Linked DNA regions of Homo sapiens. The protein of the gene in region 3 interacts with the protein of the main gene of each other region in a biochemical or structural test. Each region holds a gene or a part of one and is shown on either strand. Other genes may lie near its edges.

What was found.
Region 1: the proteins of LIG1 (region 3) and CDYL2 interact in a test that uses a peptide from one of them, tested with the Homo sapiens proteins (one study listed by BioGRID).
Region 2: of the proteins of LIG1 (region 3) and EHMT2, one has a biochemical effect on the other in vitro, tested with the Homo sapiens proteins (3 studies listed by BioGRID).
Region 4: of the proteins of LIG1 (region 3) and EHMT1, one has a biochemical effect on the other in vitro, tested with the Homo sapiens proteins (one study listed by BioGRID).

The regions. Positions count from the first base shown.
Region 1 is NC_000016.10:80,626,584-80,633,607, reverse strand, and holds part of CDYL2 (chromodomain Y-like protein 2), read left to right. Parts: intron 1-371; coding exon 372-589; intron 590-7,024.
Region 2 is NC_000006.12:31,880,690-31,887,713, forward strand, and holds part of EHMT2 (histone-lysine N-methyltransferase EHMT2), read right to left. Parts: intron 6,971-7,024; coding exon 6,888-6,970; intron 6,413-6,887; coding exon 6,306-6,412; intron 6,209-6,305; coding exon 6,086-6,208; intron 5,994-6,085; coding exon 5,892-5,993; intron 4,367-5,891; coding exon of another isoform or gene 4,328-4,366; coding exon 4,223-4,327; coding exon of another isoform or gene 4,202-4,222; intron 4,111-4,201; coding exon 3,956-4,110; intron 3,871-3,955; coding exon 3,703-3,870; intron 3,516-3,702; exon of another isoform or gene 3,262-3,515; coding exon 3,117-3,261; exon of another isoform or gene 2,751-3,116; coding exon 2,673-2,750; exon of another isoform or gene 2,321-2,672; coding exon 2,205-2,320; exon of another isoform or gene 2,097-2,204; coding exon 2,010-2,096; exon of another isoform or gene 1,984-2,009; intron 872-1,983; exon of another isoform or gene 707-871; intron 433-706; exon of another isoform or gene 404-432; coding exon 325-403; intron 160-324; coding exon 1-159. UniProt on the Homo sapiens protein: Histone methyltransferase that specifically mono- and dimethylates 'Lys-9' of histone H3 (H3K9me1 and H3K9me2, respectively) in euchromatin.
Region 3 is NC_000019.10:48,167,339-48,174,557, reverse strand, and holds the start of LIG1 (DNA ligase 1), read left to right. Parts: upstream 1-4,213; 5' UTR 4,214-4,317; intron 4,318-7,219. Other genes in the region: uncharacterized protein ZSWIM9, read right to left, coding at 2,481-2,764, 3,530-3,601.
Region 4 is NC_000009.12:137,810,981-137,818,004, forward strand, and holds part of EHMT1 (histone-lysine N-methyltransferase EHMT1), read left to right. Parts: intron 1-480; coding exon 481-635; intron 636-2,025; coding exon 2,026-2,193; intron 2,194-2,405; coding exon 2,406-2,550; intron 2,551-3,450; coding exon 3,451-3,528; intron 3,529-4,966; coding exon 4,967-5,082; intron 5,083-6,458; coding exon 6,459-6,545; intron 6,546-7,024. UniProt on the Homo sapiens protein: Histone methyltransferase that specifically mono- and dimethylates 'Lys-9' of histone H3 (H3K9me1 and H3K9me2, respectively) in euchromatin.

The DNA.
Region 1 (7,024 bases), on a different chromosome or scaffold from region 3:
CTTGCTCTTATTGATAATTTCCTATGATTCATAGGCATCCACCAGTGGAGAGGGCTGCCTCTCAGGGTGGTCAGTGGATTCCCTGTGGCCAAGGAATCTGAGCAGAAGCTGATATATGGGAGAAGAGAGTAGAGGACCGCACAGGGCCTTCACAAAGAGCCCTCTAGGTCCCCTTCTGAATTTGGAGATGCAGGAATTCAGCCTGTCTCTTCACCTTCCCTCTTCCTAGAACAGAGGGTGGCACAGGGGAGAAGGTGGTGTGTCCCAGCACATCCAAACCTTTCCATTGGAAATCCCAACGTCCTCTGATCACATCCTTCTAGGATCGTGGTCCATTTCAGTTTCTTACATTGTTTATCTGGTTTTGGAAGGCTCTGCTCTGACCAACGGGGGATTGAACCTGCACAGTCCAGTGAAGAGGAAGCTGGAAGCGGAGAAGGACTACGTCTTTGACAAAAGGCTCAGATACAGTGTCCGCCAGAATGAAAGCAACTGTCGGTTTCGAGACATCGTTGTGCGGAAGGAAGAAGGGTTCACGCACATCCTGCTGTCCAGTCAGACCTCGGATAACAATGCCCTGACACCTGAGGTAAGGGGTGGCGGCCAGAGGGAAGGGCAAGCTGGGCTGTGGCTCCTTCTCACTCAGAATGGAATATTGGCTTTCTCCTTCCTTCCATCAGGGAGCTGAGGATGGTAACTAGCGTGCATAAAAACTTGACTGCAGCGCGCAATTTGCTCATCATTTTACATACATTATCCCATTTGATCTTTATGACCGTGTAATGATACCCTCTCATCTTATGGATGAAGACCATGGGGAGAGGGACTCACTGAACTGATCGTGGACACAGACTTAGCCAAGGGGCAGACCCAGAATCCAAACATCACATCTTGGGCTTTTCCAGCTAAACTTTGTTGTCATCAGCATGTCATATTTGTTGGCCGCAGATATAATTCACTCAGTTAATGTATCTCACTCAGTTTATAATACATATATATGTTACTACATATTGTATATATAATTGAGACAGATTGATTTCACATACCATAAATGTCACCCTTTTAAAATGTACAATTCAGTGATTTTTAATATATTCACAAGATTGTGCAAGCATCATCACTACTGAATTCCAGAACATCTTCATCACCCCAAGGAGAAACCTCACCCACATGAAATAGTAACTTCATTCTCCTTTCTCCCATGCCCTGGAAACCACTCATCTACTTTCTGTCTCTGTAGATTTGCCTATTCCGGACAGTTTGTATCAATGGAAACGTGCAGTTTGTAGCCTTTTGTGTCTGGCTTTTTTCACTTAGCATGTTTTCATGTTTCATCCATGTTTTAGTGTGTATCCATACTTCATTCCTTTTATGGCTAAATAATATTCCATTGTATGAATAGACTATATTTTATCTATCACCTTTTCTATTTGTTCGACTTTTGGCTTGTTTCTACTTTTGATTTTTATGGATAATATTTCTACAAATGTTATATACAAGTTTTTATGTGAACATATATTTTCAGGTTTCTTGGATATATTTCTAATTTCTAATATGATTTTCTTGAGTCTATTCCAATTCTTAGAATTGCTGGGTCATATTGCTTACCGTATTTTTCGAGGAACTGCAAAAACTGTTTTCCACAGTGGGTCCCCCATTTTACGTTCTGACCAGTAGTATGTGAGGGTTCTAGGTTCTCTGTATCCTCGATAACACTTGTTACGTCTGTCTTTTTTATTATAGCAATACTAGTGCATGTGAGGTGGTATCTCATTGTGGCTTTGGTTTGCATTTCCCTGATGACTAGTCATGTTGAGCATCTTTTCATGAGTGCATTGGTCATTTATCTCTTCTTTCTATTCACATCCTTTGCCTATTTTTAAAATTAGGTCACTTTTCTTTCTATGGTTGACTTTTAGGCATTCTTTATTTACTCTAGATAGTAAGGCCTTATCAGATACTTGACTTGAAAATATGTTCTCCTATTCTGAGAGTTGATGTTTTACTTTTTTGATAGTGCCCTATGACAAACAAATTTTTAAATTTTGATAAAGTCTGTTTTACTGCTTTTTCTACATTACTTTTTAAATATTAATCATGCTTATGTCTTAGATGAATAAAATAGGGAAACAATGAATACTTAATGCAGTGAGATTGACAACATCATTCAAAATACAGGGTACATGGCAGGAGAAGGGAACAGATTCTTGACGGCACAAAGGTGGGAAGATGCTCCACGAAGCAGCCTTTTCCTACAAGATGCCTGGGGTAGGGCAGTAGAGTGGTAAATGGCGATAACAGTGATGACAGCCACTGAACAGGGGCTCTTTGTTCCTTGTATTTGCTGTTTATCTCATGTCATTTCGTCACCTCCCTTCTGATGTAGGATTGTTATGATCCACATTGTATAGATGAGAAAATTTAGGCTTAAACAACCCAACTGGGCTAGGGTCTCACAGCTTAACCAAGTAGGTGCCAGGAGGGCAGGGGTTCTGTTCTTGCTCGCCCTTTTGTCTCTTCTGTTCATCCCAGTGCCAGGCCCACTGAAGACATTTAACTCCGAGACCCCTTTTTCTGTCCTTGCAATATCCTGTATTCTCTTTTTCATAATAGCAATGGGAGGTTAATGAGAAGGGTATGTTTTGGAGGATGAAGTCAAGGGATGGCCACTCACTCACATCGGGATAATAGAATGACCTAGCATTGTCCAGTGTACCCCGTACCATCAGGGAGGCATAGGAAGTGGGGTGGGGAGGGAGGTGCTGTGCTCTTGAATTTGTGATTGCATTATTATTATGGTTGAAATAGACCCTGGTTCTTTTACGGGGTTGTGGGTGCGGCCATCTGGAATGATTGACAAATGGTGAGGGAAGCACTGTGGCTAAAGCTTTGGGGTTGTGGGGTAGTGGTTGTGTGCTGCCCCTTCTCTGAGCATGGTGTTTTGGGGGCCTCTCCATCCTCCGCCTGTAACAGAAGCATCCCTGGGGTTCTCTGCTGTGTAGACCTCTGTGTGGGATTCAAAGAAGCCCAGAGCCTGCAGTCCACCCCGAAAGCAGCTCTTCATATGTTTATACACCTGGAAACCTCATTATTTTAAGCTCATCATGACATCTGCAGAGACCAGTTTTTCCTAGATTCTTTCTACTTCACTACTTTCTAAAAGCGTGCTCTAAAAAGGCACAGCATTTTCTTTCAAGAAATTGAACACATGTGAAGTCTCCAGTTCATTCCCTCTGTGGAGCAGCCCTGGGTGGTAACTGTTGCCCACTCATCATGGAAAACATGTTGTGCTCGTCTGATTTAAGGTGCACAGGTTCTCACCTCCTGAGCTGCGGGCTTGGTTAATTGGGGTTCCTGCCCTAATCAGTGTCAGTTGGTTACAGAACAGGAGGAAAACAGTCAAAGTTATTGATCTGGTATTTTCAGCTGTCTCAACAACTGAAGGGGATTGAGTATGTGGGTGAGCCAGCTGACTGGGTAAAGCAGCCCGTAATGAAGGTCCTACTGAAATGAAGAGGCTGTGTGAGAGGAGGAATACAGGTTTTAGTCTAGCAGACCTGGCTTCCAATCCTCCCTTCAACTTACCATGCTGTTACCTTGGGAAGTTACTTTGCTGCTCTGAGCTTCCTCCTTTATAGAAATTTTACAGTATTTTGCTGGCAAGATTAGAGATAATGTATGCACAGGAGCCCACAAAGTACCTGGCATATAGGAGGTATGTAATAAATGTTCCCATCATTGTTAATGGGAAGCAGAGGCCATTTAATGTCCACCAGCAGACATTGCCTTGCTTGTGAATGGAGGAACCAGAAGGCGACCACTTTCATGGTTATAATTAAGTTGCTTTTTCTAGTTGTATGTGTAACATTGGTTGGATTGGCCTCATGGGCAGAAATTCATACATTACTGTGTGCATTAAGTAGATTCTGAAGCTAGTGGGTTTGCTGTAATATTTCTCCTGTCTGGGATACAGCAGAGAACCAGGAGATGAACAGAAATGCCCCTTAAGGAAAGAGTCAGTGAAACAGATGACACAGTCTCCTTGATTGAAAGCTTATCCACTTCCCCATTGGGAGAAGACTCCAGGTCTTCCTTCAGTGCCCTTGGCCTCAGCCCACAATCCTACCACTACTCTCAGGAACACAGCAGACATGCAGGAGTCCCTTTTCACACCGCTCTTGTCGTGGCCCCATGTGCAAACCTGTCTCAAGGCCGGTTCACCTTTATTCTTGAATAGCTCTTTCATATGTTTACTTCTATTTCCACCATAACCATTACAGTCCACTACTAGGCTATTTTGTCTGGACTGCTGTAATTAGCCGTCTCATAAGTCTGCCTCCTTTCATGCTTCCTGCCCTGTAATCCATTCTGCATAAGGCAGGCAGAATGATCTTCCAGAAATGCAGCTGTGGCCAAGTCAACCCTTTATACACACACCCCTCCCCAACCAAATGTGTCGATGGCTCCTGATTACCCTGGCTGACAGTCAGAACCCTCAGCGTGGTGCAGTCCCGCCTCATCGTGCAGCCCACCTCACATACCTGTCCTCCTGTACCTCAGTCACCTGGTTTGCTTTCATGCTTACACCTGCCCCGGGGCCTTTATATGTGCTCTGACTGGAACGGGCCTTTCTTCCTCCTTGCTTCACTCACTCTTGCTCTTCCTTCAGGTCTCAGTTCACCCATCACTTGCACAAGTCTTATCACAGTTGTTAGTCTACATGTATTTGTGGGGTGACTTGTTAAATGTCTGATATCCCCCCCCTCCTCCATTAGACTGTAAACTTCTTGGGGATAAAGACTGGCATTCTCTTAATTCAGTAAACATTTGTTAAATTCTTTTATGTGAAAGGGTCTGGACTAGGTGCTGCAAGGGATATAAAGATGGTAAGTATGCTATTTTAGCTCTTGTGGGATTGTATTAGTTATCTATAACTGTAGCAGATTGTTTTAAACTTAGCATTTTAAAACAGCACACGTTTATTGTCTCATAATTGCTGTGGGTCAGGAATCTGGGCATGGCTCAGCCAGATGCTTCCAGCTCAAGGTCTCTTACAAGGCTGCTGTCAAGTGGAGGCTGGGGCTGCAGTCTCACACGAAGGCTCAACTGGAGGAGAATTCACTTCCAAGCTCACCCACGTGGTTGTTGGATGCATCTGTTTCCTGCCATGTGGGCCTCTTCTGAGGGCTACTCATGACAAAGCAGCTTTATTCCCTCAGAGCAAGAACTCCAAGAAAGAGCAAGAGAGGATGATCCTTTTGTCACCTATTCTCCTCCTGAAGATGACCTGCCATCATTTTGGCATCTTCTGTTGAAGCCAGTTGCTAGGTCCAGTCTTCTCTTGAGGGTGGGATTTACAGAAGAGTGTGAATACAAGGGGTTTAAATCACACAGAAGGCAAGATGCAGTAAGGAGGTGCACATTCTACAAGGGAGTTTGTCAGAAGAATCACAACAAGGATTTAAAGTATTCAGGGTTTTGGGAGAAGGGAGAGTATGCATCTAGTCTAGGGTACGGGGAAATCTCCCTTGAAGGTGGTTGCATTTGAGATAGGCCTGGTGTGACTGGATTTCAGCAGGTACAGATGAAGTATAAAGAGAAGGACCCTGATTGATTCCTCTTTTACATCACATTCTAATTAATTTGGTTATCTGGGTGTAAACCCACGCCGGATCCAAAGCTAGAGGTCATAGAGGGGGAGTCTGTTCTCTCCAGCAGACAACTAATAGCAGGTGCAAGTGACAGCTAGGAAGTGCATAATGAGGGCAATGAATGTACAGGACATATTTAGGACTTCAAAATGCATAGCAGTCTGGGACTATTTGTTATAGAATCACATCCCAGAAGCCTCTAAGAAGAATTTTCTGTTATAGGCCAGCAGGTGACCATTGAGAGGTAGTTATATGCATACAGTATATTCTGTTTAAGAAGGAAACAGAATGTGGACTAATTTCGGAACATTTTACTTTAAATGAACCAGTTACATTATTAAATTTGGGGTCTTTCAAGAAGGTAGAATCTTAGCCATCTGTCCAAATTGAATTAGCAACACCAAAAGGAAAGAAAAGAGATATAAACTAGATATAACTTTTTTAAAAATGAAAAACAGTATAGTTTGTACTTTTGTATCAATAAAATGCAAATTTATTTTCAGTTTAATTCATAAATGAGATGGCTGTTTTGTTTGGTCTTTTATTTATTTTTTCTTAACGAATTGAGAAGTAGGTAAGTATGGCCTTAGCCAGAGAAGCTACTCTCTGAGTCATCTATAGAATTTCAGTTCACCTCTTTACAGCAGGGTTTCTTTTTTTTTTTATTTGCCTCTCAGAGAAATAGAGTTCATGTATAGGTGAGAGTATATCTATTTCTGGAGGCAGATGGATTAAAGGACCCACAAGATAGTGGCCTGTGAGCTTTTTTGATGTTCAAAATGAATATCTGTTGCTTATACCCAGATAGGCTGGAATGTGCTTATTCCATCCTTCCAGCAGGGCACAGGGCTGGAGATTCTCAATTCAGATTGACATCCAGCCCTGTTTTTTCCACCAAAATCCTATCCATTAAAAAAAATCATCCAACAGTATAAAGTAGGAGAAAGTAAAGGATGGTTAGCATGAGATTTAAATCATGGTCGTGCCTCTTACTGTTGGTGTGACCTTGGACATCTTACTGCACCTGTCTGAGTCTTCATGGTGTCACTTGCAAGGTTGAGATACCATCTCCTACCTTACCAGATTTTTGTTTGGAATAAAATTCCTGGTGCAATTCCTGGCACTACTAGGTGCTTAAGAAATGGAAGTTCTTTTAAAACTTTAACCTTAAAAAACAGTATTTTCCCAGTATCCCCCTAACTTCCATACACCGTGATGATGCCTGTGGAGTCTTTAATAGTGATCCTTTGGAAGTTTGCTCACTTATCATCTCTTCTGTTAGCCTCTAAGCTTCACCCAGGCACACGCCATGCCTTGTTTTCTATCACTATGTACTTTCTGCTCTTGTTTTAACAATCCAGTGATTGGGTGTT
Region 2 (7,024 bases), on a different chromosome or scaffold from region 3:
CCGGATGTCTCGGGAACTGAAGAAGGCGATGCGTGGAAATCGCAGGTCTTGGTGCAGCATGAAGACCCGGACGGGAATGATGTTGGGGTCACACAGGTGGTTGATGAAGCGGCTGATGTTGCCATAGTAACGGGCATCTATGCAGTACACCTCTCCATCCTGGGGCAGGGGGATGGCACTCTTCACATCTCCCCCGACCCTGCTTGCCCTCCCCACCCACTGACTCCCCAGTCCCTCCTCCCCAGGTTTCCATTTGCTGACTTCCCAGAGGCTCCTGAAAGCCAGCCCTGGGGAGCAGCAGGGTAAGGAGGGTCTCCTGCTCACCTTGTTGTCTAAGTCGAAGAGGTAAGAATCATCCTCTCTCACATCAGCCTCAGCATCAGAGATCAGCTCCCCGACATACCTGTGGGACAGGAATCCATGGTTCTGAAGGTGAGTGTGGGCTATTAGGAGGTGGCTCCAGGCCCCATCTCTCTTCACAAGCCTGTGGAATCTGGAATGGGCAGGGCTGGCAGGTGTGGGGAAGGGAAGGCCTGGAGCAGCAGTGGTGGGCAAGTGAAAGGGCAGCATTCCAGCCTTGACAGAGGAAGCCTTCAGTCAGCACAGAGACAGACAACAAGCTCTGTGGTTAAGGGGATTAATGTGTAGGGGCAGTTGGCCTGGGTGGGGAAGTTCGGGTTTGGACACAGAGAGGTTTGTGTTCCAGGAGCCACCCGGCAGGAATGGGCGATATGGAACAGGAGAGGGGCCAGGACTGCAGGAAGAGCCAGAGGTACAGGAGTGGCAAGGAACTCAAGGCATGATTCGGGGCAAGAGCACCCACACATATCTGGACACCAGAGGGAGGAGAGGAGCCAGCTATCTAAGGAGGGTGAGCAGACATGGGAGATTCAGACACACGGAGAGGACGTGGGTGGGAAGTGACTGTCAAGAGACAGCTTCAGCAGAGTGGGAAGGGCAAAGGCCGATTTTGGCAGGGACAGGCAGTGAGTGGATGGTGGGGAAACTGAGGCCCAGCAGGAAGGGGCTGCTTGCCAGAGAAGTTGAGAGATGACATGATGGAAAGAAACTGGATGGTCTGTTGAACAGGCAAGTATGGTTAGAGGACTATCTTTTTTAAAGGCCAAAGAATGGTCAGGCACGGTGGCTCACGCCTGTAATCCCAGCACTTTGGGAGGCCGAGGTGGGCGGATCATCTGAGGTCAGGAGTTGGAGACCAGCCTGGCTAACATGGTGAAACTCCGTTTCTACTAAAAATACAAAAAATTAGCCGGGTGTGGTGGTGCGCACCTGTAATCCCAGCTACTTGGGAGGCTGAGGCAGGAGAATCGCTTGAACCTGGGAGGTGGAGACTGCAGTGAGCCAAGATTGTGCCATTGCACTCCAGCTTGGGCAACAAGAGTGAAACTCCGTCTCAAAAAATAAATTAAAAAAAAAAAAAAAAAAGAGCCAAAGGAGACTAAAGTAAGATTGAGGGTTGTGGGATGGCAGCCAAGAGAAAGGGGGAGATTACAGATGCTGGGCAGAGAAAGAACTGATGGAGAGGGACAGGCCCCTGAGGAGGTGGACAGATAGGTAGCTGTTATCACCTCCACTCTACAGACAAGAAAAATAAGGCTCAAAGAGGTTAAGTAACTTGGCCAAGAACATCCAGAAGCAGAGAGGGGCTCAAACCCAAGTCTGTTTGTCTCCCAAACTGGCACTTTCTCCAGCTAGGAAGGGCGAGGAGGGGGTGGAGGGGAAGGTAGAGGGTGGAGGTGGAGGGGAGGGAAGACAAGCTCTGTGGTCTGGGCAGAGTGGAGGCAGGTGCCATTCTCAGCTGGGGGGATGGGGGTCAGAGGCGGCTGGCTGCTCAGCTGCAGGAATAGGGGTCAGAGGAGGCTGGCTGGAGAGTGGCCAGATGGAGACATGTGACTCATCAGGGCAGATGGCTGAGAGGGAGGCCTGGCAGTCAGCAGTGGCCATGTATCCCCTTCCCACCAGGTGTTAAGGTGCTCCCGGTGACTTACTCGCAGATGAAGGTCCCCTGTGGGATGGTCTGCAGGGCGCGGACCCCCCAGCCCATCTTGGCTGTTCGGTAGAGCTGTAGCCGCACCCTGGGGGTAGGAGAGATGGCGCTGTTGGGTGGAGGCCCTGGAAAAGCCCCAGGGGCAGGGAGGAAAGGGTGAGGTGGGGAGAGGGTGGGCTGTGGAGCAGGGCCTCACTTGATGCCACTCTGTACGACCCGGTTCTTGCAGTTTCTCCAGCATGAGCACGCCTGGTTACACTCGAAAATCAGCGGAGGCTCAATCTTGTTAAATTCCTGGAGCAATCGCCCATCCTAGGGTGCGGAGGGGAGGATAGTGGTTTCTCTGTGGGGCCCACCTCAGCTGCCCACCCAGGAACCCCAAGACTCTACAGAGACAGGGAAGTTGGGGTTGGGGAGGTCACACAGGCTCTGAGATCCGAGAGCACGAAATGCAGGAGCATCATCCCTGGTTTGCATAGACCTGGGCACACGCCCATCGCTGTCCCAGCCACATCCCAGGATTCCCAGGCCTTGCCCAGTCCTCTCAGTCACTTCCCCCACAGGGTAGGAGGTGAGGGACATGGTCCCAGGGAGCTGGTTTATTGGAGGCTGGCTCCTCTGAAGGAGGGGCCGGGTGTCTGTGGCCAAGGCAAGGGGCACGCACCTTGTCATACCAGCACCGGATGCTGAGCTGGCCGCACAGGCAGTTGGAGCTAGAGCAGTCGTCCACACACGTGCAGTGCTGGGGCGAGGAGGCAGAGGTCAGCTCAACCCCATGATCGGTCTGGGCCCCTCTACTCTTGATGCCCCCTGACCCCCTAACCACTGTCCTTTCTTTGGGGTCCATGTGTTACAACAGTGGGTGGTGATGGTCCTAGGGTGACGGGTAATCAGTATGGTGGTGTCCCCAGGGCTACTGGGAGCTCATATGATACCTTGCTGTGACCTAGGAAAAGGATCCCTCCCCTGGTGGGGATGCGACCCCACACCAGGGCTCCCTTTCAGCCAACCCTTCCTTGGCCAGGTGCCTTTGCTGGTTTGAAGCTTGTCCAACTGTACTTGGCAGCTCTCGGTGTCCTTTTGGGGAGGCCCCGGGCCCCCTACTCACCTGCAGGTGGGTGATGTTGCGATCGATGTTCATGGTGGACGTCTCGCAGTTCTCTGAGATGTACTTGTAATCCTCAGGGCAGGGCTCCCCATCCACACCGTTGACACAGGGAATGGGCACGTTCTCATAGCCCCGAGCCACGTCCCTGCAGAAGACGGGAAGAAGGGGCTGGGAAGCTGGAAAAGGGGGTGAGGAGCTACTCCAGGTATAAGGAAGAGAGTTGGGGAGGTTCCTGGGGCTGGGGGCAGGGGAGTAAGGTTGCCAGGTAAGATGCAGGACAGCGAGTTAACATAGAATTTTAGATAAACAAGAAATAGCTTTTTAGTATGTCCCAAAAATTACACAGGACATTCTCACACTAAAAAAGTATGCATCTGTGCATCTGAAATTCCAGTTTAACTGGGTGTCTTCTATTTTTATTTGCTGTATCTGGCAACCCTAGTGGGGAGGGGGCCTGTGGGTGGTTCTGGGGATTCAGTGGTGCATGGGGAGGGGTTGGGGAATGTTGTGAGGATGCAATGGAGCCTGGGGAGGGTATGGGTGGGGAGGAGGTGGTCTTGGGTGCAGAGAGGGGCCCAGGGCTCACCGGCAGATGATCTTCTCTGTGCGGATGGCCCGATTTCCCACCCCAAGTCGGAGCTTGCGGTTGAGTTGAAGCGCAAACCACACGTCGGAGCGCTCGGGAGTCAGGTCCCATGCTGTGTCCCCCTCTTTGTTCCGCAGCTCAGGGTTGGCCCCACGTGACAGGAATAACCTGAAGAGGGGACAGGATGCCCAATGCAGGGTCTGAGGCTGCAAGAAGTGGGGGCAGGGGCATCAAGGGCGGGGCAGGGGCTCACAGCACGCAGTCATGGTAGCTCTCCCGAGCTGCGATGTGCAGGGGGGTGTCCCCATGGTAGTTGACAGCATGGAGGTCACAGCGCGCATTCAGAAGGACTTCGGCGATGGCGGCGCTGCCCGTGAAGGAGGCCCAGTGCAGGCAGATGTTCTCCTCCTGTGGAGGTAGGAGGGGAACAGATGAGGTGCAGGCAGCTGGGCCCTTGAATCCAGCCTCCACCTTGCTCAGGGGCCTGGGGCTGCCCTACCTCAACCAAACGCTCACTCACGTTGTCAGTGAGGGTGACGTCGGCGCCCCGCGTCAGTAGCATGCGGATCACCTCGATGTGCTTGTGCTCTGCAGCCCAGATGATGGGCGTCCACCCCCCACTGTCCTGTGGGTGGGAAGGGAGTGAGGGTGGGGGCAGCTGGCCCTGCTCACCAAAGCAGCAAATGGTCAAGATTGGCTGTGTGTGTGAATCCCAGCTCCACCATTCACAAGCTGTGGGACCCTGGGTAAGTCACTTAACGTCTCTGGGTCGCAGTTTCTTCATCTAAAAAATGGGACTAGTAGGGTCGGGCGCGGTGGCTCATGCCTGTAATCCCAGCACTTTGGGAGGCCGAGGCGGGCGGATCACGAGGTCAGGAGATGGAGGCCATTGTGGCCAACACGGTGAAACCCTGTCTCTACTAAAAAATAGAAAAAATTAGCTGGGCGTGGTGGCAGGCGCCTGTAGTCCCAGCTACTAGGGAGGCTGAGGCAGAATGGCGTGAACCCGGGAGGCGGAGCTTGCAGTGAGCCAAGATCGTGCCACTGCACTCCAGCCTGGGCGACAGAGCAAGACTCCGTCTCAAAAAACAAACAAACAAAAATGGGACTAGTAGCGTCTACCATCTGATGCCAGAGAGAAAATAAAGTAATTGTTCTCTTTCCAAAAAATACAGCCAGGAGCTGGTCATGGAGGTGCATGCCTGTAGTCCCAGCTACTCATGTGACTGAGATGGGAGGGTTGCTTGAGCCCAGGATTTCGAGGCTGCAGAGAGCTATGACTGTCTGTGAACTGCTACTGTACTTCAGCCTGGGTGACATAGCAAGACCCTGTCTCTTAAAAGAAAAAACGAACAAAAATTTCCTAAGTCTGCCCACTCAAAAGTCCTAGAAGCAGCGACAACCCAATAACAATAAACACTCCTAGGAACATAGATTGTATTCTCTAAAAAATGCTTCTGGCCGGGCGCTGTGGCTCACGAGGTCAGGAGTTCAAGATCAGCCTGGCCAATATGGTGAAACCCCGTCTCTACTAAAAATACAAAAATTAGCCGGGCATGGTGGTGGGCGCCTGTAATCCCAGCTACTCGGGAGGCTGAGGCAGGAGAATGGCGTGAACCTGGGAGGCGGAGCTTGCAGTAAGCTGTGATCACGCCATTGCACTCCAGCCTGGGCAACAGAGTGAGACTCCGTCTCAAAAAAAAAAAAAAAAGTTTCCCATAAAGGAAGCAGAGTTTCTTAGAGAAATGGTGGATTCTGAGTTGGGGGCAGGAAATGTGCTGAAAGGTCAGGAGGCTCTCAAAGGCCACTGGGCCACTGGGTCATGTCACAGCCACAGAGGCCTCTTAAAGGGGCTTCTTCTGGACAATGATGGAATAATTCAAAGACTGAGAAGAATGCCAATAAATGACTAAAACACATCCAATGTATGACAACCCAAGAGTTAATAAAAAGCCTCACTGGACACTTTCAGAGATTAAGACAGGAACTGATTATTCTGAAACTTGATAAAGAGAAAGAAACGAGAAAGAAAAGAATGAAGAGAAATACAAATGAGGAAGAAGAAAGCAATGAGGACAGACACGAGCAGTGTGAGGTCAGATGTAGGAAAGGCGGCCCAAAGCCTGAGGCCAAGCCAAGGAACCCAGGCACCAGGGACCCAGAGGGGCTGGGCTGGGTGGGCCGCTGACCTGGGCGTTGACGTCCACCTGTCCTGTGCTCAGCAGCAGGCTGACCATCTCCAAGTTCCCGATTTTGGCTGCGTGGTGGAGGCAGGTGGAACCGTCCTCCTCCTGAGGGAGACACGGGCAAATGAGCCTTTGGGCTGGCACCCCAAACCTGGTCCCTGACTCCGGGGGCCACGCCCTGCTGCCTGCGCGCACACCTTGCTATAGACACAGCCACCACGCTGCACCATGTAACGGGCTACCTCCAGGTGGTTGTTCACCACGGCCTCCATCAGTGGCGTCCGCTGCTGTTTGTCCACTGCATTTATGTTGGCTCCAGCCTGTGAGGGGGCAGGAGGGCTGGCACCAGGGAGGCATGGGGCAGGGGAGGGGCCTAAGGGCCTGGTGAATGAGGCATGGGGCCGGGCCCGTGCTGACCTGCAGCAGCACATGGCAGATCTCCACGGAGCCCTTCTGGGCGGCTGCATGCAGGGGCGTGCGCTTGCTCTGCTGGTCGCTCTGGAAGTTGGGGTCCAGGTTGTCCACTGCGGGGAGAGCCCGCCACACCGGGAGAGGGAGGGACAAGTGGTAAGCAAGCTAGGGGGCAGGTGGCACTTCTTTCAGGAAGGCTTCTCAGGGCCCCAAGCTGGATCAGGGCCCCTCCTGGCATTCTCCGAGCTTGCCTCCACCACAGCATTTATCAGAATAAGGAGTCAAAGGCATCAGCTCTGCCTGAATTCAAACCCTGCCTTGCTTCTCAGTACCACTGTGCACTGTGCAAGGTCCCTAACCTCTCTGTGCAAGCCAAGGCTAACAGGTATAAGCACTCAGAACAGGACCCAGCACCTATGAGTCACCACATCCCCATCGTTATGGGTTACATGTGTCTTTTCCCCACCACACTAAGTCCTTCAGGGCAAGGACTGTGTCCTTCACGACTGTACTCCTGGCCCTGTACCCAGTGCCTGGTATATACATGAAGCTTGGTCAAGGTCTGCTGAAGGAATGGGTGGCACTCACACAGCATCAGGATCACCTTCTGCAGCTCGCCCTGCTTCACGGACAGGTACAACTGCCGAGGGTGGAAACGGAGCTTCTTCCGCCTGCCAAGGGAGCACGGGAGCGGGGAGAGAAGGGGAGCTCCTCAGATTCCAGCA
Region 3 (7,219 bases):
GACACTATTATGTCTCCCATTTTCCACATGAGGAAACTGAGGCCACAGAAAGGTGAAGTCACTCACTCAACAGCATCCACCAAGCATCAGCAGCACAATGGCCCAGAGTCCATGCTCTCGAATCCTGTAACAGCTATCACTTAACCAGCCACCCCATGTTCCAGGCACCAGGGTTATGTGTTTTTCTCATGTATGATCTCACAGTATCCTCACAATGGCCCCATGAGGCGGGTATCGTGATAACCCCATTTCAAAGGATGAGAAAACTGAGGCTTGGAGATGTGAAGTCCATTGCCCAAAGTCACCCATCCAGGAAGTCGTGGAGCATGTCTCAGGCAGCCTAAAGGCAGAGCCTGTGTTCTTAAGCACTCTGTTCTTGTCTACAGCTCCCCAACCAAGGGTCTCAAACTCACACACCTACTGGGACCAGGCAGGCAAAACAAGCAAAAGACAGTGCTAGGGATGAGGCAGCAGAGAGTGGCAGGGTTTGGGGCAAACCTGGGCAGCAAAGCCCCATCCAAGAGGGGTGGCCGTCTGCCAATGGAAACATGGGCTCACCTCTTCCGGTGTTCCAGTGGAAGCTGGAAACCTAACTGTGTGGGGAACAACCCCTGTTTAAAACTGGGGTCAGACCAGGCACCGTGGCTCACACCTGTAATCCCAGCACTTTGGGAGGCCAAGGCAGGCAGATCACCTGAGGTCGGGAGTTCAAGACCAGCCTGGCCAACATGGTGAAACCCTAAAAATACAAAAATTAGCTGGGCATGGTGGCGCATGCCTGTAATCCCAGCTACTGGGGAGGCTAAGGCAGGAGAATTGCTTGAGCCCAGGAGGCTGAGGTTGCAGTGAGTGGAGATTGTGCCACTGCACTCCAGTGTGGATGGCAGAGCAAGACTCCGTCTCAAATAAAATAAAATAAAATAAAGTAAAATAAAATTGGGGTCAATTTGGCTGGGTGTGGTGGCTCATGCCTGTAATCCCAGCATTCTGGGAGGCCGAGGTGGGCAGATCACCTCAGCCTCCTTGAGGTCAGGAGTTCGAGACCAGCCTGGCCAACATGGTGACACCCCATCTCTACTACAAATACAAAAATTAGGTGGGCATAGTGGCACACACCTGTAGTCCCAGCTACTTGGGAGGCTGAGGTGGGGGAATCTCTTGAACCCAGGAGTTGGAGGTTGCAGGGAGCCAAGATCGCACTACTGCTCTCCAGCCTGGGCAACAGAGTAAGACCCTGTCTCAAAAAAATAAAGACTAAATAAAATACAATTGGGGTCCATTAAAATACCCCTGGCCACCTGGGTGTGATTCTGGCTCTCCTGGATTTCTCACCTGCCCCTCTTTGCACAGTTGTAGGGAACTACCTGTGAGCTTGTTCTTTTAACGTCAATCTTTCTGTCCAGTCAGAAAGTACCAGAAGGGCAGGGATTTTTGTCTCTTGCCCAACTCCATCGCTCCAACTAGAATATCCCCAGCCCACAGCATGGGACCTGGCCCCTTATTCACTGAATAGATGGATCCTTTTCTTTATCCTGCGGCTTCTCTGCAGTTCAGTCTCCCAGTCTCTGTCTCCCAGTCTTTGTCACGTGTACAAAACCTGGCTCTTCTGTTTCCCTGGCTGTCTCTGGTGTCTCTGCCTCCATGTCTCCATGTTTCTGGAATTTTCCGTGACTATTTTCTCCTCTTGGGGTGTGTGTGTTTTACGCTCTGCCTCTCGAAGTCTCTATTACATTCTGTAAGTCAGGCCGGGCACAGTGGCTCGCGGCTGTAATCCCAGCACTTTGGGAGGCAAGACGGGCAGATCACCTGAGGTCATGAGTTTGAGACCAGCCTGGCCAACATGGTGAAACCCCATCTCTACAAAAATCCAAAAATTGGCCAGGCGTGGTGGCGCGTGCCTGTAATCCCAGCTACTCAGGAGGTTGAGGCAGGAGAAACAACGCTTGAACTCGGGAGGTGGAGGTTGCAGTGAGCCGAGATTGTGCCATTGCACTCCAGCCTGAGTGACAGAGCAAGACTCTGTCTCAAAAAAACAACACAAAGCAAAACAAAACAAAAACAAAAACAAAAAACCACACAAAAATTAGCCGGGCATGATGGCAGGTGCCTGTAGTCCTAGCTACTCGGGAGGCTGAGGCGGGAGAATCACTTGAACCTAGGAGGTGGAGGCTGCAGATGGCACCACTGCACTCAAGCCTGGGCGACAGAGCGAGACTCCATCTCGAAAAAAAAAAAAAAGTCTGTAAGTCGGGCCCACACCATCTCTTGCTCCGTGAGTATCTTTGTCTCTCTAGCTCCTCTTCTTCTCTCAGTACATGTCCCTCCTTGACTCCCGCCTCTCTGCAAGGTGTATTTGGCTGCCTCAGTTGGCCTCTCCCCCTCTGCATCTCTGGGTGGGGTGTTCTCTGCCCGTCTCCCACCCACACCCACCCCCGGTGCTCCCCTTCCCCCCAGCAGGACAGCGGCTCAGGTTCACGCACCCCACGGCGGGCCGGCTGGGCGCACGCACGTCCTTGCACACAAGCCGCACGTAGCTGTACTTGAGCACGTCGATGAGCGTGTAGAGCGGGGGCGCACTGGCCCAGCGGCAGCGCGCCAGGTGCATGGAGCTCTTGACGAAGAAGAGCGCCAGCCGCTGCTGGCACCACGCGTCGAAGAAGCGGCTGAACTCGGCCCACGAGAAGAAGGCCCGCTCCCGCAGCTCCTGCTCCTCCTGCCCCGCAGCCGTGCCGGGTGGGGGCTCCGGCCGCTCCATCCTGGGGGCCTGCGTGGAGGAGGGGAGAACAGGTGGATATCAGACCCATTCCCACCCGGGGTATCTCATCTACTCCATTCTTGGCCTGCCCCGTCGGTTGCTGGTGCCTCTATCGAGGTGGGTAGCCCGGGGTCGGACGTGCCTGTTTTTCTCCAAATATATAAATATCAACCTCCATCCTATCTTTGGCCTCCTCCCACCGCCTTATCCCTGGTTCACTTGGAGCCTGTCATCTTGATTCCTAATTCCAACTCGTCTCCTCCTCCGCAGATGTGACCCTTAGGTACAGTTGGAATCTCTCCTCCCAAAATACGACCCTTAAGCTCAGATGTCCCTTAAGGACATCTCCTCAAATGTGTTCTCAAATTCCAGCTAAAACCTCCTCCCCTTCCAGCTGTGTCTCTCACCCAAGAGTAACTTCTAACTCTCGTATTCATCTGGAACTCCTCCTTCCATGTGCCAACAGTTGGCTGTAACCCCTCCAAAGACGCTCCATCTCCAGATGTGCTCCCACATCCAGGCCACGGACCCCTCACCCGGTCACATGCTTCATGCACCTGTGGCTCCGCACTCCCCAGATGTGCCTCTGGCGTGCAGCTGTTGCCCCTTCCCCCGATTATGACCCTATGGCTCGCCACATGCAGCTGTAGCTGGGGCTTCCCTGAGACACTCTCATCTCCAGATGTACTCCCCACATGCAGTTATCCACGCTTCGCCTACAGGTGTGTGCCCCACTTGTGGCTAGTTCTCCTCGGAAGTGTCACCAGTATTCACCTGTGGTCCCCTCCTCCTCAGATGCGGCCCCCAGTCCAGCTGTGGGCCCCTCCTCCCAGTTACATCCACCATCCCCCGCAATATGCATCTTCGTTCTAGACATGGCCCCTCGTCCTCGGATGGGCTCCTTCACCCCAGATGCTCCCCCCACGTCCAGCTGCGCGTCTCCCCTCGAGCAGCCCCATCCAGCCCGCTCCCGACCCTCCTACTCCCCCCCTCCCCGCCCGCTGCGGCACCTTCCAGCCCCGCCGTCCCACCTAGCTGTGCCTCTCCCCTCCCCAAGATGTGCACCCTTCCCGCCCCTCCCCACTCACCTACCCGCCCCGGAGCGGCGTCCACCTCCCACAATGCCCCGCGCCCAGGCCTGGCCCGGCCCTTGCTCCCGGGATGCCCCGCGCGGTCTCCCGCCTCTCTTCCCGCCGTGCCTCGCGGGGGCGCTTCCACCGATTCCTCCTCTTTCCCTGCCAGTCACTCCTCAGACCCTCAGCCACACCCGCTCATCCAGGGCGAGGGAAAGCGCGGGCATTTTCCCAGTGTGCTCTGCGGGAGGGCTCGCCCCACTTCACCCCTTTTCCCGCCCTCCTCCCATTCGGGAGACTACGACTCCCAGTGTCCTCCGCGCGACGGCGGCGGTGCGGACGGTGCCCAGGTCCCGCCCCTAGGCTCTGCCCCGCCCCCGCCCGCAGACGTCTGCGCGCGAATGCCGTGGCGCGAACTTGGGACTGCAGAGGCGCGCCTGGCGGATCTGAGTGTGTTGCCCGGGCAGCGGCGCGCGGGACCAACGCAAGGCAAGTGGGGCCGTCCGCAAGCAGATGGGAGGCGGAGGGCGGCGGGTGCGCCGAATGCTTGGGGCCTATGCTTCGCCATGTCGGGGTGTCTGCAGAGGAGTGGGCGTGGGGACGCTGAGGCTGCCGAGAGCGCGGTGGAGACGGAAGAGCGCGGGCTGCGGGCCGCCGGAGAGTGCAGAGAGGTGTCTCCCAGAGGGAGGGGGGCCAGGTAGAGGGTAGACGAGAGACAGAGACAGTTGGACAGGTCCTCTGAGAAGAGGCCTTGAGGTGCGAGTTCACCTGGAAAGGGGAGAGGCCAAATGGAACTGAGGGGCGGGGCCGGGGGGGGGAAAACTGTGTGGGCGGGGCCAGCTGGAAATCGGAAGGCCCCCCGAGGGGGCGGGGCTATCTGGGAGGGGGAGGGGCTGAAGGGAGCTAAGGGGCGGGGCCGGGGAAAAGATTGCGTGTGGGCGGGGCCACCTGGAAGGGGGAGGTGCCAAGGGTGGGGCTGGCTGGGAACCGGAAGTGCTGAGGGGGCGGGGGCCACCTGGAAGTGCTGAGGGGGCGGGGCTAGAAGAAGGTAAATCGCGGGCAGCAGCATCACCTGGAAGGAGTGGGCCCTACTGGAGGGAGATGGGTGGTGTCAGGGAGAGGTCAGTGGTAAGGTCCAGGTCTAGGTAAAGGGCTCGTAAAAGATGGAGAATCATCTGAATGGGGAGACGTCTGGCCTAATGTATGCTTGATAAAGGGATGGAGCTTACCTCTTGTTTTTACTTTTTATTTTGAAATAATTATAGATTCAAGGAAGTTGTGAAAAGAGTATATCCATCTTCCCCTAATGGTGACATCTTATGTAGTCCCAATATCGAAACCAGGAAATTGACATCAATACAGTTCTGTTAACTAGATTACAGACCTTGTTCAGTTTTCACCAGTTTGTGTGGTGTGAGTGTGATTGTGCATCTGTGTGCCCGTGCAGCTTGATTCCTTGTATAGATTTGTGTAACCCCCATCGTAATTGTGATATAGAACAGTTCCCTCTCCACATAAGAACTCCTCCCCAGGCCCCTGGCAACCGCTAATGTGTTCACCATCTCTAGTTTTGTCATTCGGAGATTGTTATGTAAATGGAATCATATATTATTAGGATGTTACCTTTTTTCTACTCTGCACAATGCCCTGGAGGTCCACCCAAGTTGTTGCTTGTATCAGTGCTTCGTTTCTTTTTATTACTGAGTACTGTTTCATCCTTACTTGATATTTTTCCTGTCATTATCTCTTCATTTTGGTAACCGCTTTATTGAGATATAATTCACAATTATACAGTTTGCCCATTTAAAGTGTACAATTTTGCCCATTTAAAATGTACAAGTCAGCGGTTTTCAGTGTATTTAAAGTGTATTTCAGTGTATTTAAAGTGCCCATTTAAAGTGTACAAGTCAGTGGTTTTCAGTGTATGCGCTGAGTTGTGCAGTTATTACCATAATCGATTTTAGGATATTTTTATCATCCCCCCAAAAAACTCCTATACCTTTTATCCATCATTCATTTAATTTTAACCCTGAACAATATTCTACCATATGGTATTCCAGTAATGAGGGAACCAGTTCCCTAAGGGTAGACATTCCACCAGTTTCCAGTCTTCTCTCATTACAGTTAGTGCTGCAGCAGGTAACTTTGTGCCTCACTTGGTCCACCTGTGAGGGTCTCTGTGGGCCAAATACACAGAAGTGGGGTTGCCGTTCCGATAGAGACGCCAGGTGGTCCTCCAGAGGCATCAACCAGTTTGTTCCCCCCAACTCAGCAGTACACAGAGTTGAGAAGCCAGCCTTGAGTACCGTGGTAAGGAGAAAGGAACGTGGGCTTTGGAGCCAGCCACACCGGGTTTTGAAGCCTTGCCTGAACCCCAGCTATGTTCCTCTGTCCTCATTACCTTCATCTATAAAGTGGGGATGATCTCACCTGTCTTGGAGGGCTGACTTGAGGATTGAGGGTATTTGAGAATGTGATCAGCCTGTCAGGCATAGAGTAGGCTTCCCAGTAAACGCTTATGTATTTCTCCTTCCCTTGCAACTCAGTCTGGTGGTTAAGAGGTGAGCTGTGGAGCAGGCCGACCTGGGGTGGAACGTACTATAGATGCAGGTTAAGTTCCTTTGAAAACCCCTCTGTGCCTTAGTTTCTGTAACAGAGTTGTTGTGGAGAGTCAGTATAATTGAGAATGTCAAGTACCTAGGCAGTTGAGCACTCAGGAGGGATCGTAATAGTTTTCTCCTTTGCCCTCAGGATTTTGGTGGCTAAGTCCCTAACCTGCTTTCTGTGTGAACTGTTTGGTTGAAGCATTGCTTACTTCCTGCTCCCCAACTGGCCCTGAGAAACTCTGTTTGGAAATTGCTGAGTTTCTTTTTTGTTTGTTTTTTTTTTTTTTTTTTTTTTTTTAAGACGGGGTCTCGCTCTGTCGCCCAGGCTGGAGTCCAGTGGTGCAGTCTCAGCTCACTGCAACCTCTGCCTCCTGGGATCAAGTGATTCTCCTGCCTCAGCCTCCTGAGTAGTTGGGATTACAGGCTGGCACCACCATGCCTGGCTAATTTTTTGCATTTTTAGTAGAGATGGGGTTTCACCATGCGGGCCAGGCTGGTCTTGAACTCCTGACCTCGTGATCCGCCTGTCTCAGCCTTCCAAAGTGCTGGGAGTACAGGCGTGAGCCACAGTGCCGGCCTACTGAGTTTTTTGATTCCAAAATTGAGTTTGAGTTGTGGTGCCAACATGTGGCGGCCAAGGCTGTAGAGAGTAGTGGAGACTTAGAGGCGTGTGGTGCGGGACAGAGAGTACTGATTCCAGAAAACGAAAGGGGACCCCATGGGTTGAAGAAGATTTCTGTGCAAAGGAAGGGAAAGTCAAAGAAAACCATTTCTGTTGCCCAGGC
Region 4 (7,024 bases), on a different chromosome or scaffold from region 3:
GTGAGCCACCATGCCCGGCCCAAAATTTTAATTTAATCAAATTTGCACGTCCTTTTTTCAAATCTTTCAAAAGCATTATCCTATCCTATGACTATACCCCTGCTTGGAAATGAATATAATTTTTAAAAATACATGAAAGAAAAGTGCCTCCAAGTGTTAATATGTTGAGTGTAGGTTGATATAATTCTGGATGACCTTTTCCCTATTTTTATTCTTTACTGTGATTATGCTACTTTTATAATTATGTTATTTTTACAATGAAACAAACAAAACATGAAACGAAGTGCCTTCCAGAGTTGAGATGGGCGCTAGGTTCCCATCCGGTGACCTGTGGCACCCTTTCCACCTGGCCCTGCTGCGGACGGCCACGCATGCTCCAGAGCCTCTCCCCGGGCACATGGGCTGCAGCTGCTGTGGCCCAGCCCCAGCACTGTGAGCCAGCAGGAAGCCTGCACTGAGCTCTGGCTTGTGTCTGTTCAGGAGGAGAACATTTGCCTGCACTGGGCGGCGTTCTCCGGCTGCGTGGACATAGCCGAGATCCTGCTGGCTGCCAAGTGCGACCTCCACGCCGTGAACATCCACGGAGACTCGCCACTGCACATTGCCGCCCGGGAGAACCGCTACGACTGTGTCGTGTGAGTGCAGTGCTTCCCCCAGCGCGGGCTGGCGCTGACCTGACCTGGGCGCCCAGAGAGACCGCTTGACAGTCTTGTGTTCACACTTGGGGCGTGAGTGGACACAGGCCCTCTGTTCCTTCGTGTGGAAGTCCATCCTTGGTGTTCCACACGCAGAGAAGTGTCTTTCCCAGTCCACGTTTGAGATCAGCTGTGGTTTATTTCTGGGTTAGGGAGGATTGTCATGAAAAAATTCCCAAGTTGGAGTCTCAGACCTGATACTCCTCACATGGCTGAGGGGCAGCATGGGAACAGCCCTGCTCCCAGCAGGGACCTGCCAGCTCAGAGTCCCCGAGAGGCTCAGGGTGCCTTCTGGGAGCAGTGCCACCCACAGCCAGGGCTGGAGTTGCTGGGGGCTGTGGCACTCGCCACTCAGGGCCCTTTTAAAACTTGAGACCTTCAGCTGGGTGGTGGTGGCTCACGCCTGTAATCCCAGCACTTTGGGAGGCTGAGGCAGGCAGATCACCTGAGGTCAGGAGTTTGAGACTAGCCTGGCCAACATGGTGAAACCCCATCTCTACTAAAATACAAAAATTAGCCGGCCATGGTGGCATGTGCCTGTAACCCCAGCTACTCCAGAGGCTGAGGCAGGCGAATCGCTTGAACCCAGGAGGCAAGAGATTGCAGTGAGTGGAGATTGCGACGCTACACTCCAACCTGGGCGACAGAGTGAGATTCTGTCTCAAAAAAAACCCAAAAAACAAAAAAAGCTTGAGACCTTGATCCCATAAAGTCATCCACACTCAGGTTGTTGTTGGTGGCCTGGGATGGAGTGTGTGTTTGGCTGCTGGGGAAGGACAGGGAACTGTGGGTGCTCCAGGCACCAGCCTCCAGTGACTCCCTGGCCCCTACACATGGGGCTGTGCCCTCCCACATGTGGATCTCACGGTGGCTCAGCCAGGTTGGTCATCTGGTTGTGTGAAGCCCAGCTCCACGTACGATGACTGCAGTCTGGATGCAGTGAGCAGGAGTGGAACTGAGGACTGCTCACGCTGTGCGTGGCCCAAGCTTGGCCTCTCTCCCTCCTTGCTTCCCTTCTTATCCTTGAGGGTAAATTTGAATGAAAAATCCAAGAAAAATCAAATGCCGCCCTGGATTTTACACTCTTCCTGCTAAGAAAACAGCCTGCTGACTTTGACAGTGAATGTGGGAGAGGAGGAAGGGAATCATGTTCCTGGGTGAGCTAAAGCCCGTCTTTGCAGAGTCATTGCTGAGCAGACTTGTTCAAGTTATCTCACAGTGAATAGTGTTCCCTTTATTGTTAGTGATGACGGACATTTTATAAATCTCATCTGTATCACATTTTCAAGTCAGCTTTAAATGTTTTGTGGCCTTACATTTTCCCTTTTAGCCTCTTTCTTTCTCGGGATTCAGATGTCACCTTAAAGAACAAGGAAGGAGAGACGCCCCTGCAGTGTGCGAGCCTCAACTCTCAGGTGTGGAGCGCTCTGCAGATGAGCAAGGCTCTGCAGGACTCGGCCCCCGACAGGCCCAGCCCCGTGGAGAGGATAGTGAGCAGGTGAGCCCAGCCCCAGGACGGCTTTGTGGCAAATCAGCGGTCAGCAGGGCTTTGGGAACTTGCGGTGAAAGCTGCTCCTGAAGCCGAAACATCCCCAGGCTGCAGTCCAAATTGTCAGGGCCAGGTGTTTGCCAGCCGCCCCACTGCACGCTGTGCCACCCCCTGGGCAGAGCACGTCAGCCACCAGGTGACACCTGTCCTTTCCATGGCAGGGACATCGCTCGAGGCTACGAGCGCATCCCCATCCCCTGTGTCAACGCCGTGGACAGCGAGCCATGCCCCAGCAACTACAAGTACGTCTCTCAGAACTGCGTGACGTCCCCCATGAACATCGACAGAAATATCACTCATCTGCAGGTGAGTGACGGCAGATGAAGGGCTGACTCAGGCCAGGACATGGGACAGGCAGAAGCTTCTTGAGCCTGGGGTCCTGGGTTCTCACCACTCAGAGCAGGAGGGCTTATGGGGGGCTTCCCAGGAAGACCTCATTCTCTTTGTAGTTGCCTCCCGTGAAAGAGCTGGAAGGCAGATAAAGGTTCTGTCAGGCCCAGCCCTGGGCCCTCTCATTGCTCTTCCAAGGCTTCTTACCGACCCAAAGCAGTGGCAGGCATCTTTGTGCCTTTTTTGTAACCTCACACTCAGGGGCCCCGGTGTGGCTTCGTGCTGGGGGCACAGGCGAGAGGAGCCCTTGCGAGGCCTGCAGGACGACCTGGATCCCTGCACCTCCCAGCCCCCGGAGAGATGGGTCCAGCACATGCCAGCTTTCCCAGCCTCCGAGTGCATGCAGCCTGGTGCCCTCACTGCTTGCGCCTTCTCGAGCACTTTCCTTGTGGCTCTGCTTGTGGGCAGCTCCCTCCTCTTCCCAGGCCGGGCACTGCCCAGGCCCCCCCCCCCCCCCGCCCCCCGCCCCACAAGGTGTGTCAGGCTCTGTGTTCTTGCCTTTCCCATCGAGCATCTGGCCACAAATGCAGCCGCCGCCCAGCCCTTCACCCACCCCACGTCACCCACTGCCGCGTCGCTGCCCTGCCTGCCCCCTGTCCCTCTGTCAGGGTCCTCAGCCAGAGCTCCCTCCCACAGGCACTCGACATGTTTCTGCCTGCACAGCCTTCTCCCTAAGAGGCCACACACTCACGTGGTGCCTTTGAGAAGCACTTACCAGAATCAGGGTTAACAGAACTGGAAGACGTAGTTGTGACTGGGAGGGGAAATGGAAGGCCTGTGCCTGCACGTCTGACCCCCCGGCGCCTCTCTTCTCAGTACTGCGTGTGCATCGACGACTGCTCCTCCAGCAACTGCATGTGCGGCCAGCTCAGCATGCGCTGCTGGTACGACAAGGTGAGGGCGGCCTCGTGTGCGTGGGCTCAGGTGGTAAGTGCCGCTGGTCCGGGTCTGCAAAAACAGTGCAGGCGTCTGTGACCCCAGCGCTGTCGTGGCAGCGTCGGGAAGGAGTTGGAGGTGAGCTGGGTGTGACAGGCAGGGGAGGCACAGCGGGCACCAGCACCCGAGTCAGGGTCGTGAGCCGAGGACATGGCTGCGGATTCCCTGGGGCTGGGGTCTGCATCCTTTGTGGCTGCCTGGATGGTGGCGGGGGTGGGCAGCGTCAGCCTGGCTTGGCCCCAGGAGGAGGTGCTGCTTATGTTGTGTGTATCTGGTAAGCTGTGCCTTGTGCTTGCTGAGTGTGAGGGGTGTGAAGAGGGAGGGTGCTGCCGGGCTGGGTACAGGGAGCATCAGTGTGGGCGCTGGGCTTGAGGAGACACAGGATTGGAAGTTTCTGTTGGGTGCTGGTCCTCGGAGGAGCCCAGGTTGGAGGCTGCTGAGGAGGAGACGGGAGTGGGGAGTAGCCCTGGCTAGCAGGGGTGCAATTCAGGGGAGGGATGTCTAAGCAGAGGCGGAGAGTTCCTGGTCTCCCGAGTTCAGAGGTCACGGTGGGGGCGGAAGCCAGCATGGCCTGGGTAAAGAGACGCGAGCAGGGAGAGGCAACAGGCGTCCCCTCTGGAAGCAGACTTTGGAGGAGAGTGGACATGGAGGGTCAAGTGTTTACCCATCTGAATTAGAGGCTCCAATGGGAAAAGGATTCGTGCCAGTGAGGGCTATGGAGATGGTACGCTCAGAAAGCCACCAAGCTCATGTCCGAGTGGTGTCTTTTCAGGTGGACAGTGTTGCTGAGGGGGCGCAGGAAGGAATGTTCTGAGGAGCGCCCTAATTGTTCAGAGCAGCCCCTGAAGCCGTCAAGCCAGAGTGTGCCTGGGCAGCCCTGGGCCCCGCGCCTCAGCTCACACAGCCCTGGGGGAGCATCTGCACCCAGTGCTGCTGTACCTGGCCTGGCTTCAGGGGGGTAGAAAGGGGAGCAGAGGGCTGGGTCCCTCCACAGTTGAGGATTTGCAAGGCAAGGAGGCCAGGAGTGCAGGAGGGTGCAGGAGGCCCCAACCAGCTGAAGAAAGCAGAGCAACCCAGGAGCTGGCAGCCTCGGTGAGGCTGGAGAAGCCCAGGCTGGGGGCTGGGAAGGCCCTGGGTGGACAGAAGCTGGCCCCAGGCTGGGCCTAGGGGAGCGCTCCAGGGGGTCTCCACAACCTGTGTGGGCATCTGGGTGGAGGCTTCTCATCCAAACCGTACACATGGAGTTTTTCCCTAGGTGGGTGTTCAAGTTTGGCCAGAAACCATCGTTTTTATGTCCGTTTAAGCCACACTGGGCACTTAGTAGAAATGGGTTGATGTCAGTTCAATTAAAGAGTGAGTAACCTCTGCTGGGCCCTTGCTGCTCATCTGTCCACAGGATGGCCGGCTCCTGCCAGAGTTCAACATGGCGGAGCCTCCCTTGATCTTCGAATGCAACCACGCGTGCTCCTGCTGGAGGAACTGCCGAAATCGCGTCGTACAGAATGGTCTCAGGTGAGAGGCAGCTTCCTGCCGGAGCCCCACATTCTGCTCGTATTAGCACGTATTAGCACGGAGGTCACCCCGACAGACAAGAACTTAACGTGTTTGGATGCACGCACATGTGTGTTTGCAGATAGAGCCGACAAGTTACCTGAGCCCTTTATCCTCTAGAAATGTCACTTGTGCCATAAATCACGAGTCATGCTTCCCCCAGCACAGACTTCGGCATGAGAGAAGGAGCAGGTTGTTGGGTCAGTCCAGCTAAAAGCAGAGGAACGGACTTGGCCTAAGAATTACCTTTGTTACCGAGTTCATGCGAACATTCTTCAACAGGTTAGGGCTGTCGTAGTTCTATTTTAATACTCCAGTCATTTTCTAAATATTCTCTGTTCTCTGGGCTTCCCTAACAGTGAGGTGATGTCCCAACGCTTCTCAGGCTGCGTGGACTCCTTGTTCCTGGGTTGCTCAGGACGCTCATGGAGTAAGGCTTGCCCAGCGCCCTTCCCCAGCTGGGCTTGGTCCCCTGACCGCCCAGCAGCTGCGTCTCCTTTCCCTGGATTCTGGTCTTGAGCATTTCCTCCGCAAATGTGCCCGAGATTGGAGAAGTCAAAGCTCCTCTGAGTCATAAGGGAAAGTTATGCACACTTAAATTTAGCTGAACACTCATTTTTATAGTATTGACTTTTTTGTGACCTCGATAAACTTGGTTCATGGTGAAAGGCAGTCTCTGTCCTTGGTATGGTAGAAAGGCCTGGTGGTGAGGACCCACGCCAGACAGACGCGAGGCAGACACGGGACACATGCCAGATGGGCAGACGCGAGGCACGTGGTTCTGAGGGCTCCTCAGAGGCCCACATGCCAGGACCGCCCAGCCGCCCTCCTCCAGATCTACCCGGCCACCCTCCCCCAGGCCTGCCCAACCACCTTCCCCCAGCCCTGAGAAACCCTCGACCGCCACCTCCCCTGCCACCCTCCCCCAGCCCTGAGGGGCCTGTGGGCTCCTTGTCGGGAGCAGGCTGGGCTGCAGGTGTCACCACAGCCTGGTCCAGCTATAGGCTTCTCTAGTATTAGCACCTCTGCCCCTCACAGTGCCTAGTGGCCCAGGCCCAGCTCTGTCCCCATGTTACAGATGGGGACACCGAGCCACGGCCAGGACCAGTGACTTGCCGAGGTTGTGGGCTGGGGTGCTCCTGGCTGATCCCCGGGTTCTTGGCTCCCTGAGAGTGCGAGATGCCGTGTCTGTGAGGTGCCTGCAGCATCGAACGCTTCGGATACAGAACCAGTTTTCTTCCTCATTTCAGTGACGTGGCACCAGCTGGCTTTTGCTGACCATTGTGGCAACAGGCTGAGGCTGTGGCCTGGGTTCACCACTACTCTCTATTTTTCAGGGCAAGGCTGCAGCTCTACCGGACGCGGGACATGGGCTGGGGCGTGCGGTCCCTGCAGGACATCCCACCAGGCACCTTTGTCTGCGAGTGAGTGAGTCCCTGGGTCACCCCAAGCCTGGTGTCATTTCTGGGACGGAGGCCCATCTGTGTCTGTACTTCAGGAAGCCCCTCTGGGAGCAGGCACATCCCTGGCGTACAGCAGCGTGGGGTGGGGGCCACAGAGACCCTGGCCCCGAGAACCAAGCTCGTGCTGTCCTCAGTCCTCTTGCTGCTGCCCGTAACCAGCCCAGGAGTGCATTTAAGAAGGCGTGGTCCAGTTAGGAAGGCGTGGTCCAGTTAGGAAGGCGTGGTCCAGCATGGGCAGTCATCTCTAGGGGAGGACCATTCTGGGTTCTCAGGTACCAGACCGCAGACGCAGAGCTTTCGGTATCGTTATCATCATCCTCCGGACCCTCAGCTGAAACCCCAGTTCAACCCTGGGCACACCTCTCTAAACATGTTCCCTGCATGTTCTTCTGGTGTGCCCTGCTCTTTCCCTGTGGCTGCGGAGTCTGGGCTGTGCTTGT